Linked DNA regions of Homo sapiens. The protein of the gene in region 1 interacts with the protein of each later gene in a pairwise test. Each region holds a gene or a part of one and is shown in the gene's direction. Other genes may lie near its edges.

The links. The genes of interacting proteins can lie anywhere in the genome.
Region 2: the proteins of KIR2DL3 (region 1) and UPK1B interact in binary tests that used the Homo sapiens proteins (3 or more experiments, as listed by UniProt).
Region 3: the proteins of KIR2DL3 (region 1) and CLDN19 interact in binary tests that used the Homo sapiens proteins (3 or more experiments, as listed by UniProt).
Region 4: the proteins of KIR2DL3 (region 1) and APOD interact in binary tests that used the Homo sapiens proteins (3 or more experiments, as listed by UniProt).

Annotation. Positions count from the first base shown.
Region 1 is NC_000019.10:54,744,764-54,748,751, forward strand, and holds part of KIR2DL3 (killer cell immunoglobulin-like receptor 2DL3 precursor), read left to right. Parts: intron 1-2,571; coding exon 2,572-2,622; intron 2,623-3,988. UniProt on the Homo sapiens protein: Receptor on natural killer (NK) cells for HLA-C alleles (HLA-Cw1, HLA-Cw3 and HLA-Cw7). Inhibits the activity of NK cells thus preventing cell lysis.
Region 2 is NC_000003.12:119,187,098-119,190,842, forward strand, and holds part of UPK1B (uroplakin-1b), read left to right. Parts: intron 1-677; coding exon 678-878; intron 879-3,147; coding exon 3,148-3,222; intron 3,223-3,745. UniProt on the Homo sapiens protein: Component of the asymmetric unit membrane (AUM); a highly specialized biomembrane elaborated by terminally differentiated urothelial cells.
Region 3 is NC_000001.11:42,737,192-42,741,392, reverse strand, and holds the start of CLDN19 (claudin-19), read left to right. Parts: upstream 1-1,156; 5' UTR 1,157-1,329; coding exon 1,330-1,552; intron 1,553-2,807; coding exon 2,808-2,972; intron 2,973-3,079; coding exon 3,080-3,164; intron 3,165-4,201. UniProt on the Homo sapiens protein: Forms paracellular channels: coassembles with CLDN16 into tight junction strands with cation-selective channels through the strands, conveying epithelial permeability in a process known as paracellular tight junction permeability.
Region 4 is NC_000003.12:195,573,696-195,577,440, reverse strand, and holds part of APOD (apolipoprotein D precursor), read left to right. Parts: intron 1-3,469; coding exon 3,470-3,591; intron 3,592-3,745. UniProt on the Homo sapiens protein: APOD occurs in the macromolecular complex with lecithin-cholesterol acyltransferase. It is probably involved in the transport and binding of bilin. Appears to be able to transport a variety of ligands in a number of different contexts.

The DNA of each region.
Region 1 (3,988 bases):
ATCCACCCGCATCTGCCTCCCAAAGTGCTGGGATTACAGGCATGAGCCACCACGCCCAGCCACATTTACCATTTTTAAGTGTAAAGTCTAGTGGTCATAAATACATTTATATATATATATATATATATATATATACACACACACACACATATATAAACATATATATATATATATATATATATATATATATATTTTTTTTTTTTTTTTTTTTTTTACCCTCCACCCTTTTATTCCTGGCCTCTGGAAGCCACCATTCTACTCTCTACCTTCATGAGATCCACCTTTTAGCTCTGTATATGGGTGAGAAATGGGAATCTTTGTAATGACTTCCAGTTCCATCCATGTGGCTGCAAATATCAGGATGTTATTCTTTCTATGGATGAGTAGTCTCCACTGTGCGTATGTACTACATTCTCTCTATCCATTCATCCACTGATGGGCAGGTAGGTTGACTCCACATCTTGGCTACTGTGAACAGTGCTGCACCAATCATACGAGTGCAGATATCACTTCGATATATTGATTTACTTTCCTTTGGATATAAACCCAGTAGTGAAATTGCTGGATACTATGAAAGTTCTCTTTTTAGTTATTCGTTTGTTGTTTTGTTTTTGTTTTTGAGACAGTTTCCCTCTGTGCCCAGGCTGGAGTACAAGTGAAGTCATCTTGGCTCATTGCAACCTCCGCCTCCTGGGTTCAAATGATTTTCCTGCCTCAGCCTCCCTAGTAGCTGGGATTACAGGTGCACGCCACCATGCCTGGCTACTTTTTGTTTTTTTTAGTATAGATGGGGTTTCCCCATGTTGGCTGGGCTGCTCTCAAACTCATGACCTCAACTGAGGTGCCCGCCTCGGTCTCCCAAAGTGCCGGGATTACAGGCATGATCCACCTCACCCAACCTCTTTTTAGTTCTTTAAAGGACTTCCACACTTTTCTCCGTAAAGGCTGTACTAATTTACACTCCTACCAACAGGGTATTAGGGTTCTCCTTTCTCTACCACTTTGGCAGGATTTCCTTTGCCTGTCTTGCAGCTAAAAGCCATTTTATTTTATTTCATTTTATTTTGAGATGGAGTTTCGCTCTTGTCACCCAGGCTGGAGTGCAGTGGTGCGATCTCGGCTCACCACAACCTCCACCTCCCAGGTTCAAGCGATTCTCCTGCCTCAGCCTCCCGAGTAGCTGGAATTACAGGCACACGCCACCACGCCCAACTAAATTTTGTATTTTTAGTAGAGACAGTGTTTCTTCATGTGGGTCAGACTGGTCTCAAACTCCCGACCTTATGAGGTTCACCCACCTCAGGCTCTCAAAGGTCTAGGATGACAGACGTGAGCCACCACGCCCGGCCTAAAATCCATTTTAATGGGGTGAGATGAAAACTCACTTTGATTTTAATTTGTGTTTCTCTGATGATGAGTGAAACTGAGCACTTTTTAGTATGTGGGGAAATTTCATGTGTTTTGCTCCTTTTTCAATTAAATCGTTTGTTTTATTGAGTTGTTTGAGCTTCTTATATTTCTAGTTATTAATCCCATCTCAGATGCATAGTTTGCACATATTTGCTCCCAATCTGTGGGTTGTCTCTTCACTTTGTTGGTTTATTTTTAGCGGTGCAGAAGTTGCTTAGTTTGAGGTAATCCCAATGGTCTATTTTTGCTTCGATTACTTGTGTTTTGAAGGTTTAAAACAAAATGTCTTCCTTCAGACAAATGTCCTGGAGCATTTCCCCAATATTTTCTTCTACGTGTTTCATAGGTTCAGGCCTTAGACTCACATCTTTAATCCATTTTCATTTGAGTTTTGTGTATAGTGACAGGTAGAGGTGCAGTTTCATTCCTCTGCATGTAGATGTCCAGGTTTCCCTGCACTGTTTATTGAAAAGACTGTCCTTTCCTGATTGTGAGTTCTTGGCACCTTTGTCAAAGTCCATTGGATGGGCTGGGCATGGTGGCTGACACCTGCAATTTCAGCACTTTGGGAGCCCAAGGCGGGTGGATCACCTGAGGCCAGGAGTTCAAGATTAGTCTGGCCGACGTGATGAAACATTGTCTCCACTAAAAATATAAAAATTAGCTGAGCATGGTGGTCAGCACCTGTAATACCACTACTCAGGAGTTTGAGGCCAGAGAATTGATTGAACCCAGGAGGCTGTGGTGGCAGTGAACCGAGATTGCACCTCTGCACTCCAGCCTGGGTGACAGAGCGAGACTCCATCTCAAAAGAAAAAAGAAAAAAACATTGGAGGTAAATGCATGGATTATATCTGTGTTCTTCATTCTGCTCCATTGTTCTACGTGCCTTTCTTTATGCCAATGTGATGCTGTTTTGCTTACTACAGCTCTGTAACATATTTTGAGATCAGGTAGTGTGATGCTCCTGTTTTCTCTTTATACCTTGAAGTCTCAAGACAGTGGGCGTCACATACAAAAATTACGGAAAAAAGGATCCCAGGACTCCCAGGGCCCAATATTAGATAACAGAGTGTTGGCCATGAACCAACCTCAAAGATTTCCATTGAGTAGAGGACAGACACCCTCATTTCCTCACCTCTCTCCTGTCTCGTGTTCTAGGAAACCCTTCAAATAGTTGGCCTTCACCCACTGAACCAAGCTCCGAAACCGGTGAGTACAGAACCCTCTTATATCCGCTTTTGGAAACCTGGGGAGGTAGAAACCTTCGATGCAGGCATTGACTCAGCATCTCGCAGCTCTGACATTGTACGCCTGTCTTCTACCATCTCCGAACTCCAGATACTCCAACAGCGAAAGGGATCTGGGCCCAACCTAGGGCTCAGTGAAATCTCTTAATCTCTCATTTTATGGAGCTGAGACCTCCTACAAGCTAGAAGAATGATTGCCAATCTGACATCCTTCTCAGGAAAAATGCAATGTTTGTTCTGCCTGCATTCCTAACTGGAGGATAAATTCCTGGGGGCTTGAGAGAGGGAAGGGAAGGGAACATCTGATGAGGGCGAGGTGTTTTAGAGAAGTTCCACTTGCCAAGGAATGAATTACTGTTGGTCATGAAGCAACCCTGGCTGACTCAGCAGAGCAACAGCCTTGCCGTAACAGAGAACGGAGCTCATGCACGCACACTTCGACTCACTGACTCATTCAGCCACGGCCCCATGCTCAGGCTGTGCAGTGCGGAACCTTTTCCTATTGTTGCCATAACAAATTTCCACAAGATTCGTGGGTGAAAACAAAACGGTTTTTTAATTATCTTACAGTGCTGTAGCTCAAAGTAGGAAGTGCATCTTACTGGGCTAAAATCAAGGTGACAGCAAGGCTGCCTTCCCTCTGAGGATTCCAGGCAAGAATCTGCTTCTCACTTATCCCAGCTTCTAAAGGCTCCCAGTTCCTTGGCTCCTGTTCCCCTTCCTCCTTCCTCAAAGCCCACAAAGACTGGTCACATCTCACATGGCATCACTCAGTGCCTTCTTCCTTACCACACCTCTTTCTCTGAATGCTGCTCTCCCTTCTTCCTTATCTTTTGAAAACTTGGGGATTCTATTGGGTTCACCAAGATGAAAATCCCTCATAATCTCCTGGAAATCATCCAGGATACCCTTGTTTTAAGTTCAGCTGATTAGCAACCGCAATTCCATCTACAATCTTCATTCCTCCTTTCCATGTAAAATAACATATTCACAAGCTATGGAGGCTAGGACAGGGACATTTTGGGGTGGGACAGCATTCTCCTGCCTTCCACAAACGGTGAACAAGATGCATTTGGCTTCTGCCCTTGGGACACTGATATTGCAGATGGTTAAATGGGAGGGCAGAAAATGAATGCACAAGTGGATCTATAAATGAATGATCCATTGGGAAGCATCTGTGCATGAAATCTATTTTTTGTTTGTTCTTTTGTTTATTGAGACAGAGTCGCCCTCTGTCTTCCAGGCTACAGTGCAGTGTCACGATCTTGGCTCACTGCAACCTGCGTCTCCTGGATTCAAGTGATTCTCCTGCCTCCGCCTCTCGAGTA
Region 2 (3,745 bases), on another chromosome or scaffold:
TCACTATTTCTTTTCTATGTCACCTTGGTTTGATTTCCATGGGACTCTGCTGTTAAGGTTTTTTGGGACAGATGCTTGCATCTTGTTCTTCTCATACAGAGGCCAGTACCAGGGTGTAAGAATAATACAGAGGCCATACTGTGTGGGTCTGGTGGCATAGAAGAACATTTGTTTTGGAGTCCAGAGCTCTTGGCCCAGCTCTCCCTCTGACTCCCCATATGACTCTGGCCATCACCTTTCAAGGCTGAGATTCCTCATCTATAAAATGTGGGTGTTGGCAAAGATAAGCAGCAAGGTTCCTCTCAGCTGTCATTGATAAATATGACCAGGACCAGCTCAAATATTACAACCCAGAAATGTGGGTCATGACATGGGGGCAGGGGGAGATCATTCTCATACCAGAAAGCATTGTTTGAGTGATTCATGCCCCAAGGACATTGTGGATGGTCTGAAATTGTGTGGGTCTGTTACTAAATAGACAGAATAACATGTGAAGGGATGTATGCAACCAGTTAGTAGGATGGAAGTAGTTGTTTGATTTCCTGGCAATGGGGAGTTTAGATTAGTTGCATAAAGCCTGTGCAGGAAAGGGAGCCAGTCACTCTTACCTTCCCCACCCTCCACCCCCTTTCCCAAAGCTGCACTCCTGATGGAGCCCACCTTTCATTTGCCCCCAGTGTTGCGGCATTGCCCTGACTGCGGAGTGCATCTTCTTTGTATCTGACCAACACAGCCTCTACCCACTGCTTGAAGCCACCGACAACGATGACATCTATGGGGCTGCCTGGATCGGCATATTTGTGGGCATCTGCCTCTTCTGCCTGTCTGTTCTAGGCATTGTAGGCATCATGAAGTCCAGCAGGAAAATTCTTCTGGCGGTAAGACCTCAAAATTCTCTGGAGTTGTCTCCCTGAGCCAATTGTAATGGATTCTTTCTTCTTCACTGAGCAATGCTTTGGCTTTCAGTGGGGGAGCAGGAAGTACCAGATAAGGGGTGAGGAGGGGAAGACTTTCCCTGCAGTGAAATGGTCCACATGGAGGCAAAGATGCCCTCCACTATTGCAAGCCCAGAAGGCTCCAGTACAGAGAAGCCAAAGGGGAGACACCTGGGGGTGACCTAATGAGTATTTTCCATATTGTGCCTCTACAGCTGGTGTCTGCATACACCCAGTAGGTACAGCTAGGAGCTATATAGGCCAAAGGAGAGACACAGTGAGAATTCATTCATTAGATTTTTTTCTCTTGGCAATAACTTGTTTAAAACATTTTGATATTAATTAGGCATTAATATATTAGGATATAAAATATAAAATATGCATACATTTTTAAAAGAAAGTATAAGCTTTCAAAGATTTTTGAGCTCAAGGTTGATGATTCTGTATCATAGCCTATACTCCCCACATTATCATCCAATCTGCTTTTCAGGGACCCCAGAAAACCTTGATAAGCACCACTGTAGAGTGAGCCTTCAGCTCACACCTGCCTGTGGGGGCTTTAACTCTGTACATCAAGGAGAGGCTTCTGCCCCAAACCATAGACAGCAAGACCATGCCCTGCCTTTGCAGATGAAAGCAAATTTGCAGGCAGCAGAGCTGAGAAACCTGTTTCAGACGTGGACCCCTACTGTCTGCCCTAATACTTAGGGCAGCAGTTTCACACTATTATGGAACACGCCTCCAATCCCCCACCCCTGAAATAACCCTTTTATTCAAATGCTGCAGGACCTCAGTTCCCCCTTTATAGAATGAGTCCAGCAATGTAAGGTGCTTGTTAGTTTACTCTTCCTTTTAACTAACCACTGTCCTGGTTCCAATGGATTACAGAACATTTACATTCTCTGGTTCCTTAGTGTGCGTAAGTTCCAGGGCAAAAGTACCCACTTTTGGTGGGTGGGGAAAGGAATACAGGAAAAAGGGAGAGGAGACACAGGTGTTCCTAAAGACAAATTCACTTGCATCCCAGCCTCACTTTGGGCCAGCCATGTGCATGCCTGACAACCAGGAGAACTGAGCTGGGGAGGCAAAGGGGCTAAAGGAGGAAACACCTCACTGCATACCTCCTTTCTGGAGCGTCTTTACCAGGAGCCAGCAAAGCTCTTGGCAAGGAGCAAGGCAGCAGCTAACACAGGAAAAAAATGTTCTGGGGCCTCTGAAGGTGCTCCTGCTGTTGACTGTAGCCAGAGCTTTATTCTGGGCTGAGTAGTGAGGGCAACAGAGGGTCCTGCTCGGAGAGCCTCCCATACCCAAAGAGGAGGACAGTTTTCCCTGCCTACCCTGCTGACACTGACCACAGTGCCCCTTCTCCCAAGAGTGTGTGCAAGCCTGGGGAAGGCAAAGCTGGAACTCTTGCAAACAGTCCCCATCCCAGATTCAGAGGTCATTTGCTGTTCGGATATTTTCCAGCCAGAAATAGCATCACTGTCATGTGGAGGTATCATGTGCACACGCACCCATGTGCCCATGCTCACGCACACACACCACCACTACCACACACAGCAAATGCCATTTCACTCAACTGAACCAATGTACTTTGAGTGTGGGTGCGTGTGAAAGAACACCCACAAATGCTGTGCACTTGAAGCCTGCCTCTCCTCTGATGAGACTGGATGCTTGTTAGGAAGGACCCTAGATGTTCAACATTATCCAGTTCATCTTTTTCTGAACTCCGTGATTCTAAATTTTCAGCAAATTGTAAAGAAAATTTCTCCAAAATTCCAAAATTAAAGGGGATTTATGAGGCCCTATACTGTATGTGATACACTAAGACTCTCTTGCCACTCACTGAGCATGCACATGCATGTAAATGCACACATGTAAATGAGCATGTAAATGCTCACATGTGTGTGTGCACACATACACACCAGTTCATTCTCTTGTACTTGTTTTTCCCAGTTAAAATAGAAACTCAGGAAACTGGACTGAGGAAGGTCTGTATTCAATGGCTATTTGTTCTCTGGAGAAAAGGAGAGAATTGAGCTGACTAGCACCAAGCCTCAATCCAAGCCACTGGTCAATGAGGGTTTGTTGAATAACTACATGAGTGATTACATGATTATATGATAAATTTGCTGAAAAAACATAATTATTTGGGCAAGTCGCTCTTTGACGGGTAAATGTAATTCTTTTATCTCATTTATTTCCCTTCCAGTATTTCATTCTGATGTTTATAGTATATGCCTTTGAAGTGGCATCTTGTATCACAGCAGCAACACAACAAGACTTTGTGAGTACAACCTCAAAAAGCAAAATAATATGAATTATCATTATTATAACAACCAACATGTATTAACCCCTTACTATGTGCCCAGGCAATCCAATATGCACAGTAATAATACATCTATCATTTTACTTAATCCTCATAAATCTATGAAATAGGCATTATCACTCTGGTCATTTGAGAAAGGAAAAAAAATGAGACAGAAAGGTAAAATGACTTGTCTAAAGTGACATAGTTGGCAACTGAAAGAGCAAGAATTCTGAACCCAGATGGCCTGACTCCCAGGGCCCAAGTTTGTAATCCCCTGTGGGTTTCACCACTCTGCCATGGCCATGGGCCTTCCAATGGGAGGATCTCTGTTCTACCTCAGCTAAGACGTGCTCTCAATTCTACATCTTTCTTTCTCTCCCATTCTCTGTTTTCCTAGCCTAAGCCACCCTACAGTATGTGTTCCCCTGGCCTCATAGTGATTTCTTTTAAGATGAGAGTCTCTTCTCTGCATGGGGACTTATGCCAACCTCAGCCAGCT
Region 3 (4,201 bases), on another chromosome or scaffold:
CTGGGGACTTGTCCCTTCAGAGGGGGGTTGGGGCTGTGGGGGAGGAAGCCAGCAGGGGTCTGCAGCAGGACCCTGCCTTCCCCCAGTGCAGTCCAGGAAGGGTGGGTGGGCTGTTGGGGACGGAGGGGGCGGCGGGGGGCTGGCAGGAGTGGAAGCAGGGTTGTGACATTCCTTCTGCACCCACGCTGCAGTGGGGCCCACTTGAACGTGAGGGGATTGCTAATGAGGTGGAAGAGAGTTAAACATTCCCCTACTCCTGAAGACCAAGAGAGACTGGGAGAGAGAAGAGGGAGGTGGGGGTGCTCGGAGCGGGCAGCCTGAACCCCGGGAATGTGCAGAGGCCACTGCTCCGCGCCAGGCTGCTCTAGAGTTGGGGGCCAGGGCCCAGTGTTCCAGTCCCAGCAGGAGCTACTAAGCCAGCCAGCAAGGGGATTAAGGGGCTGAGCAATCCGCCTTCCTTCAGGCTGATGCCAGAAGGTTGGGGCTGTCTCCCCAGCTCCCCACCAGGCCCCTTGCTGGCCGGCAGCCAGCGCTGGCCCAGCCTCGATAGGGCCCCTTTTCTGTCCCCCTCAGATCTCAAAAAGACCCCACAGTACATATTTCCTGGTCTGGCCTCCCTGATTTTTGGCACACACAGCTCCCAGGTACCCATGACCCCTCTTCCCAACACCCCACCGCTAGCTCAGCCTCCCCACATCCAGCTTCAGAGCCCCTGCCAAAAAGTTATCCTTGACATCTAACTCTAGTTTTACCCGCTGCAAACTGGCATTCCTTTCCCTTCTGTCCTAAAGTCAAAGGGCAGAAAACCCCAAGGGTTAGATCAGCCTTGCAAGAGCAAAGTCCATCCTCCCAGGGCTGGTGTTTGGGTTAGGGATTATCCGAATTTTAGGACACCCGAATCAGGTTCCTAAAGGGGTTTCCCTGTGGGGAAAGGCCCAGAGGGCAGCTGGGTCATTCCTCTCAGCCCCTCCCTTCCCTATCCCTGCGGAACGGGGCGGGGCAGGGACACCACCTGGGCCATGGGCCGGCCCTCCGCCCCCAGGGGGCTGGGCATGAGCTTTGCTGGGGACCCTGCTCTGGCTTAGGCGGCTGCTGTGGGCGGGCCCTGGCCTTTTCCAGCCCCTGGGCCTCCCCCTGCATTCTGGAGTCCAGAGCCACTGCCTTTGCTCCAGCCGCTGCCGCCGCACCACCTCTCCTTCTCTGCCTCTGACCCTCCTTCTCGCTGCTCCCCCTGCCCAGCTGCTCCTCCCACCTGGCCATGACCAAAGCCCCTGCTGGCACCCTGGCCCAGCTCTGAGTCCTGGGACCCTCGGTCCTCTCTCCTGGGCCATGGCCAACTCAGGCCTCCAGCTCCTGGGCTACTTCTTGGCCCTGGGTGGCTGGGTGGGCATCATTGCTAGCACAGCCCTGCCACAGTGGAAGCAGTCTTCCTACGCAGGCGACGCCATCATCACTGCCGTGGGCCTCTATGAAGGGCTCTGGATGTCCTGCGCCTCCCAGAGCACTGGGCAAGTGCAGTGCAAGCTCTACGACTCGCTGCTCGCCCTGGACGGTAGGCCCCAGGCCGGCGGGGTGGGAGATGGGAGGTGGGAACAGCAGGGGAGTCTGGAGCAAGTTTTCCTCACAGTCTGCTATCTGCGCTGGGCTCCAACCTCCAGCCTCCGCTCTACAATTCCCCCACTACTGCCCTGTGCCCATTGACGGTCCAGGCCAGCCTGCTGCCCTGTGGGAGGGGAGGGCTCTAGGGTCTGGCGGCTGTGGGTCCAGATTCCTGCTCTGTCACTATAACTTTGAACTAGTCACCAAACCTCTTCCCATTGTGATGTTCTCATCTCTAAAGGGGAATACTAATACCTGTGGCACTCTGAAAGACTCAGTTAAGACCCTTCATCCACTTCTCCCCACAGTCAGTAGACAGACACACACTGTATGATGCACACCTGCTCCCTAGTCCTGCTCCCAGGCCTGTGTGCCAGCATATGGGTGCATGCACATGCATGCAAACACGCATGCACACGCACACACGTGCACATGCATGCACAGACAGGTGTGTCTGCATGCAGTCCCTCTCCTTCTGGGGTGTGGAGATGAGCCTGACAGGCACCGCCGAAGTTCTAACTCTGGGGTGGAGGTGATCCACCTGCAATCTGCCCAGGAGCCCCCAGGGACAATCTGCTCCCCATGGGAGCTGGGAGCAGAGCGGCCTTCAACCAGCCCCATTGTGCCAGTTCAGGCAGGTCAGTTCAGGCAGGTCATCTAGCCTCGCTGAGGGACCCAGGTCTCCTGAGCACCCCCCAGGGCCCAGGATGGACCCATGCACCCGTGAAGAGGCAAGCTTCCAGCTGCCATGGGCAGAGGGGAAAGTGACTGTTGTCTGAATGGCTGCTGGGGAGGGGTTGCTGCGGGGCTCAGGCTGAGTTGAGCTGGGCCTCAGATACCCCCAGCTCTTCCACCTACCAAACCTGAGGGGACCCTGGAGCTGCCCTCAGCTGCTTGGGAGGATGGGCCAAGCCCAAGAGGGAGTCCCCAGGCCAGAAAGCAACAGCAGAGTGAATCATACTACCGGAAAAGCCTGCAAGGGCGAGTGGAGAATGGCGTTGACAGTGAAGGGGACTCTCACCCCCACACCCTGTCCTCATGCCCGGGCTGTCACTCCTCACTATCCTGCACCTGCCAGAAGGTGGTCTGACCCCCCAGGCCAGCTCCTGCTCAAGCCCCTCTCAAGCTGGGCTCCTTCCACCGACCCCAGGCACCGACCCAACCCCCATCCCCGCCAGCCCGACTCAGTGTCATCCCGCCCACCCTAGGTCACATCCAATCAGCGCGGGCCCTGATGGTGGTGGCCGTGCTCCTGGGCTTCGTGGCCATGGTCCTCAGCGTAGTTGGCATGAAGTGTACGCGGGTGGGAGACAGCAACCCCATTGCCAAGGGCCGTGTTGCCATCGCCGGGGGAGCCCTCTTCATCCTGGCAGGTGAGTGCCCCTCACTCCTGCACAATCACAACCATGGCAGGCAGCCCCAGCCCCAGTGGCCTCGGGGGGCCAGAGCAGAGCTGAGCGCCCCTCTGCTTTGTCTTTAGGCCTCTGCACTTTGACTGCTGTCTCGTGGTATGCCACCCTGGTGACCCAGGAGTTCTTCAACCCAAGCACACCTGTCAATGCCAGGTGGGTGCCAGGGCTTGGGTCTTTTGCTTTACCTCCTCTGGGGCCACTGACCTTTGTCCACTGGATCACCTGGCGGGGGAAGTGGGGACAGGATCCAGCTGCTGTCCAAGAAGCTTTAAAGGGGGGCGCCAGGAGGAGTGTGGTGGGGCCCTCCATAGGGGCGGGAGGCCTGTGATGGGCACCCAGGTGCAGCAAGGACTCTCTAAGGACCTAAGTGCCCTGGCTCTGGGTTTCAATCCCAGCTCTGGCTGGGTGCAGTGGCTCACGCCTGTAATCCCAGCACTTTGGGAAGCCAAGATGGGTGGATCACCTGAGGTCAGGAGTTCAAGACCAGCCTGGCCAACATGGTGAAACCCCGTCTCTATTAAAAATACAAAAAATATCTGGGCATGGTGGCGGGCGCCTGTAATCTCAGCTACTCGGGAGGCAGAGGCAGGAGAATAGCTTGAACCCGGGAGGCAAAAGTTGCAATGAGCCGAGATTGCGCCACTGCACTCCAGTCTGGGTGACAGAGTGAGATTTTGTCTCAAAAAAATCAAACGATCAATCAATCCCAGCTTTGCATGCACTGTGTCACCTGGGCAAGTTACTTAATCTTTCTGTGCCTAGTTTCCTCCTCTGTGAAATGGAGCTAGAACCTGAGCACCAGTTCACACATGGTTGTCAGGATCCAGCAGGATGCAGGTGAGGGTGTGGCACCGTGCCCGGGCCCTGGACAGTACCCAGCAAGCCTGAGCTGTTTTCATTTCTGCTGGTGGCAGCAGGGCTGAGATGACTTCCTGCAGGAGGCAGCAGTTATTCTGGGCCAGGAAGAAACTTGAGAATAAGGGCAGATCGTGGAGGGCCTTGCAACCACAGGAAGATTTTGTTCCTCATTTGGGTGGAGGCAGCGGCAGTCCTTCTGGCTGTGATGTGCAGAATGGTGGGGAGGGAGTGACACCAGGAAGGCGGCTGTCCCAAAGGTCTGAGCAGAGAGTTTGGGGCAACAGGGAGGGAGCAGTGGAAAGCAGGCTGATATTCAGGAGATAACCAGGACT
Region 4 (3,745 bases), on another chromosome or scaffold:
ATACAGATTGCATTAAATCTGAAGATCAATTTGGGGAGTACTGCCATCTTAACAATATTAAGTCTTCTAACTTGTCAACATAGTGTATCTTTCCATTGAATTAGGTCATCTTTAATTTCTTTCAACAATACTTTGTAGTTTTCAGAGTATAAGTTTTATGTTTCTTTGGTTAAATTTATTCCCAAATATTTTATTCTTTTGATGTTATTGTAAATGGAATTTTCTTCTTTTTCTTTTCTTTTCTTTTTTTTTTTGAGACGGAGTCTCACTTTGTCACCCAGGGTGGAGTGCAGCATCACCATCTTGGCTCACTGCAACCTCCGCCTCCCGGGTTCAAGCAATTCTCCTGCCTCAGCCTCCCAAGTAGCTGGGACTACAGGTACACGCCACCACACCCAGCAAAGTTTTTTTGTATTTTAGTAAAGACGGGGTTTCACCATGTTGCCCAGGCTGGTCTCGAACTCCTGAGCTCAGGCAATCCATCCGCCTCGGCCTCCCATAGTGCTAGGATTACAGGTGTGAGCAAGCCACCGTGCCCGGCCTTTTAAATGGAATTTTCTTAATTTCATCTGCAAATTGTTCATTGCAAGTAGAGAAATATGTTTATATATGTATATATTTTTGTGTGTGTGTGACAGAGTCTTGCTCTGTCACCCAGGCTGGAGTGTAGTGGCACCATCTCAGCTCACTGCAACCTCTGCCTCCCAGGTTCAAGAGATTATCCTGCCTCAGCCTCCCGAGTAGCTGGTATTACAGTTGCGTGCCACCATGCCCGGCTAATTTTTAAATTTTTTATAGAGATGGGGCCTCGCCATGTTGGCTATGCTGGTCTTGAACTCCTGACCTCAAGTGATCCACCCGCCTCGGCCTCCCAAAGTCCTGGGATTACAGGCATGAGCCACTGCGTCTGGCTGAGAAATATATTTGATTTTTGAATATTAATCTTGTATCTTGTAACCTTGCTTAACTCATTAGATCCAATAGTTTTTGGTTTTGTCTCTGTTTTAGATTTCTTAGGATATTTTATATGTCATCTGCAAACAGATAGAGTTTTACCTCTTCTTTTCTAGGATTATTTTTCAATACTGACCAGAGATCTGAAAAGATTAAGAAGCCTTTGCAAAAATAATATGAGATCATAAGGAAGCTCTGAGTTTCCTCTTTTCTGAAAAATCATGCTTCCTTGGTTTTTACTATGGGGCACTAAACTCACTTTAACAGAAATAGAACAGATTTGAATGCACCATAGAAAATGGAGCTTCTTCCGAGAATGTCTATGAAACCAGTTAACCTCTAACCTTATTCTTTGGTACTTTAAATGAATGTTAAGTTCAGTGGCTTTAATTGAAAGCTGTGCTTTAATAAGTGAGTAGAACTTTATGGTCATGAATGTGGCATACATTTGAGCGGAAAGCCGTGGCTGAAGCAATACTCACCTGTGTGCAGCATCCTCTCTTTTCAAGTTCTGACTCTGAAGGTGAGCGCATCTCTTTTTGTTTTTAAATTTCTAGAATAGGCCAGGCGCGGTGGCTCACGCCTGTAATCCCAGCACTTTGGGAGGCCGAGGCAGGGGGATCACTAGGTCAGGAGATTGAGACCATCCTGGCCAACATGGTGAAACCCCTTCTCCAGTAAAAATACAAAAATTAGCCGGGCATGGTGGCACGTGCCTGTAATCCCAGCTACTCGGGAGGCTGAAGCAGGAGAATCACTTGCACCCGGGAGGCAGAGGTTGCAGTGAGCCCAGATTGCACTACTGCACTCCACTCTGGTGACATAGTGAGACTCCATCTCAAAAAAACAAAATTCTAATTAGTATTTTAACTAGATAAATATATTTACATTGTTCAAAATCCTAAAGGTGTAAAAGAATACACCACATAAAGTTTCCCTCCCACCTCTGTACCTCAGTTTCCCTCCCCAGTAGCAACTAGTAAAAACCATGTATTATGTAATTTTACAGATAATATATACATATACAAGCAAATACTTAATAACTGTGGTAAGCAGAAGAGTGGCTTCCAAAGGTGTCCACGCCCTAACCTTGTGAATGTTACTTTGCATGGGAAAAGGGCTTTTGCAAATGTGATCGAAGTTATGAGCCTTGAGATGGCCAGATTAGCCTTGATTATCCAGGGGAACTCAATCTAATCACATAAATCCTTAAAAGCAGAGAATCTTTCCCAGCTGTGATAAGAGAGAGAGGTTTGATGATGGCATAAGAGTCAGAGAGATGCAATGTGAGAAGGATCTGACTTCCTTTTGCTGGCTTTGAAAATAGAGGAAGCCTCAAGCCAAGGAATGTAGGCGGCCTGTAGAACTTGGAAAAGGCAAGGAAACTGATCCTCCCCTAGAGCTCCCAGAGGGAAACACAGCCAACACTTTGAGTTCAGCCCAGTGAGACCTGTCAGACTTCTGACTTACACAACTGCAAGATAATAAATCTGTGCTGTTTGAAGCTTGTGCTAATTTATTATAGCAGCAACAGAAAACCAACGTAATAAACATTTTCTCCATTTTTACACAAAAGGTGCCTTAATAGATACACTATTTTGTACCTGACTCTTTTGTCATTAAATATTAGAAATCACTGCATACCACTCTTTTGAAAGAGGAAGTAAAATTCCATTGTCTGGATATGCCATCGTTTACTCACCCAGCCCCCTACTAATGCTCACATAGGCTGTTTCCTATCTTGTATTATTACAAACGGTACTGTAATGAATAACTTTACACATACATCATTTCTTATATCAGGAGGATGCATTCCCAGAAGTGAAATTGCTGGGCCAAAGAGTATAATATGTATTTTTAGCTTTGCTAGATATTGCCAAACTGCCCTCCGCAGAGGTTGTAAACTGGTATGGTCTCCCTGCAACGCGTGCCAGGCAGCCTAGGAGGGCCTGGTTCCCTCGACCTTCCCCACACAGTGGCAGCTTCCTTTAAAGCTAACTGTATACACCTGAAGTCTGGACTGAGCGCAGGCCCCTAGAGAAAGCATGATACAGACCTTTCAAATCCCCACCACCTCTCCAAAGCCTTGATGACTAAATCCCTCCTCAGGGTCAGATGAGGAAAGTTCCGTGCGCTCTGGAGTCCTAGCTCCCCACAGCGAACACATCTGACTTTGCACAGGATTCAAAGATGACTTGTAGAATTGTGCACTGTTTCAGATGAAAGGTATTTCCCATCATCCCCTTTTTTTACAGAGTCTAGAATGTCACAGCGATTTTGGCTGAAGTGGGCCCTGAGAAGAGCCCTTTACTCAGCATTCACCCCCTGCCCGCACATCCCATCCTAGTCACAGATTCTCATTGCAATCAATCTCTTGCCCAGTTGCCACTGGGAACAATGAGGCCCATTTTGTCTGGCTTCCCCAGGACAGGGCTCTGCGTCTGCACGACAATGGGGAAGAAGTTGCAGGTCCCCAGAGAACCACAGGGTTTTGCTCTGCTTGTTGTCTCTGCAGTATCTCGGAAGATGGTACGAAATTGAGAAGATCCCAACAACCTTTGAGAATGGACGCTGCATCCAGGCCAACTACTCACTAATGGAAAACGGAAAGATCAAAGTGTTAAACCAGGAGTTGAGGTGAGTGGCTGTGGGCGTCCGGGGCCAGGCCTGCGGAGTGCTGATGCAGAGTGACTGGGTGTCCGGCAGCCTGGGTCAGGGAGGATGGGAACCTTGCTGGATCGGGACTGCCTGCTCCTAGCAGGAATTGAGAGGAAAGCGTTTGGCAGGCAAG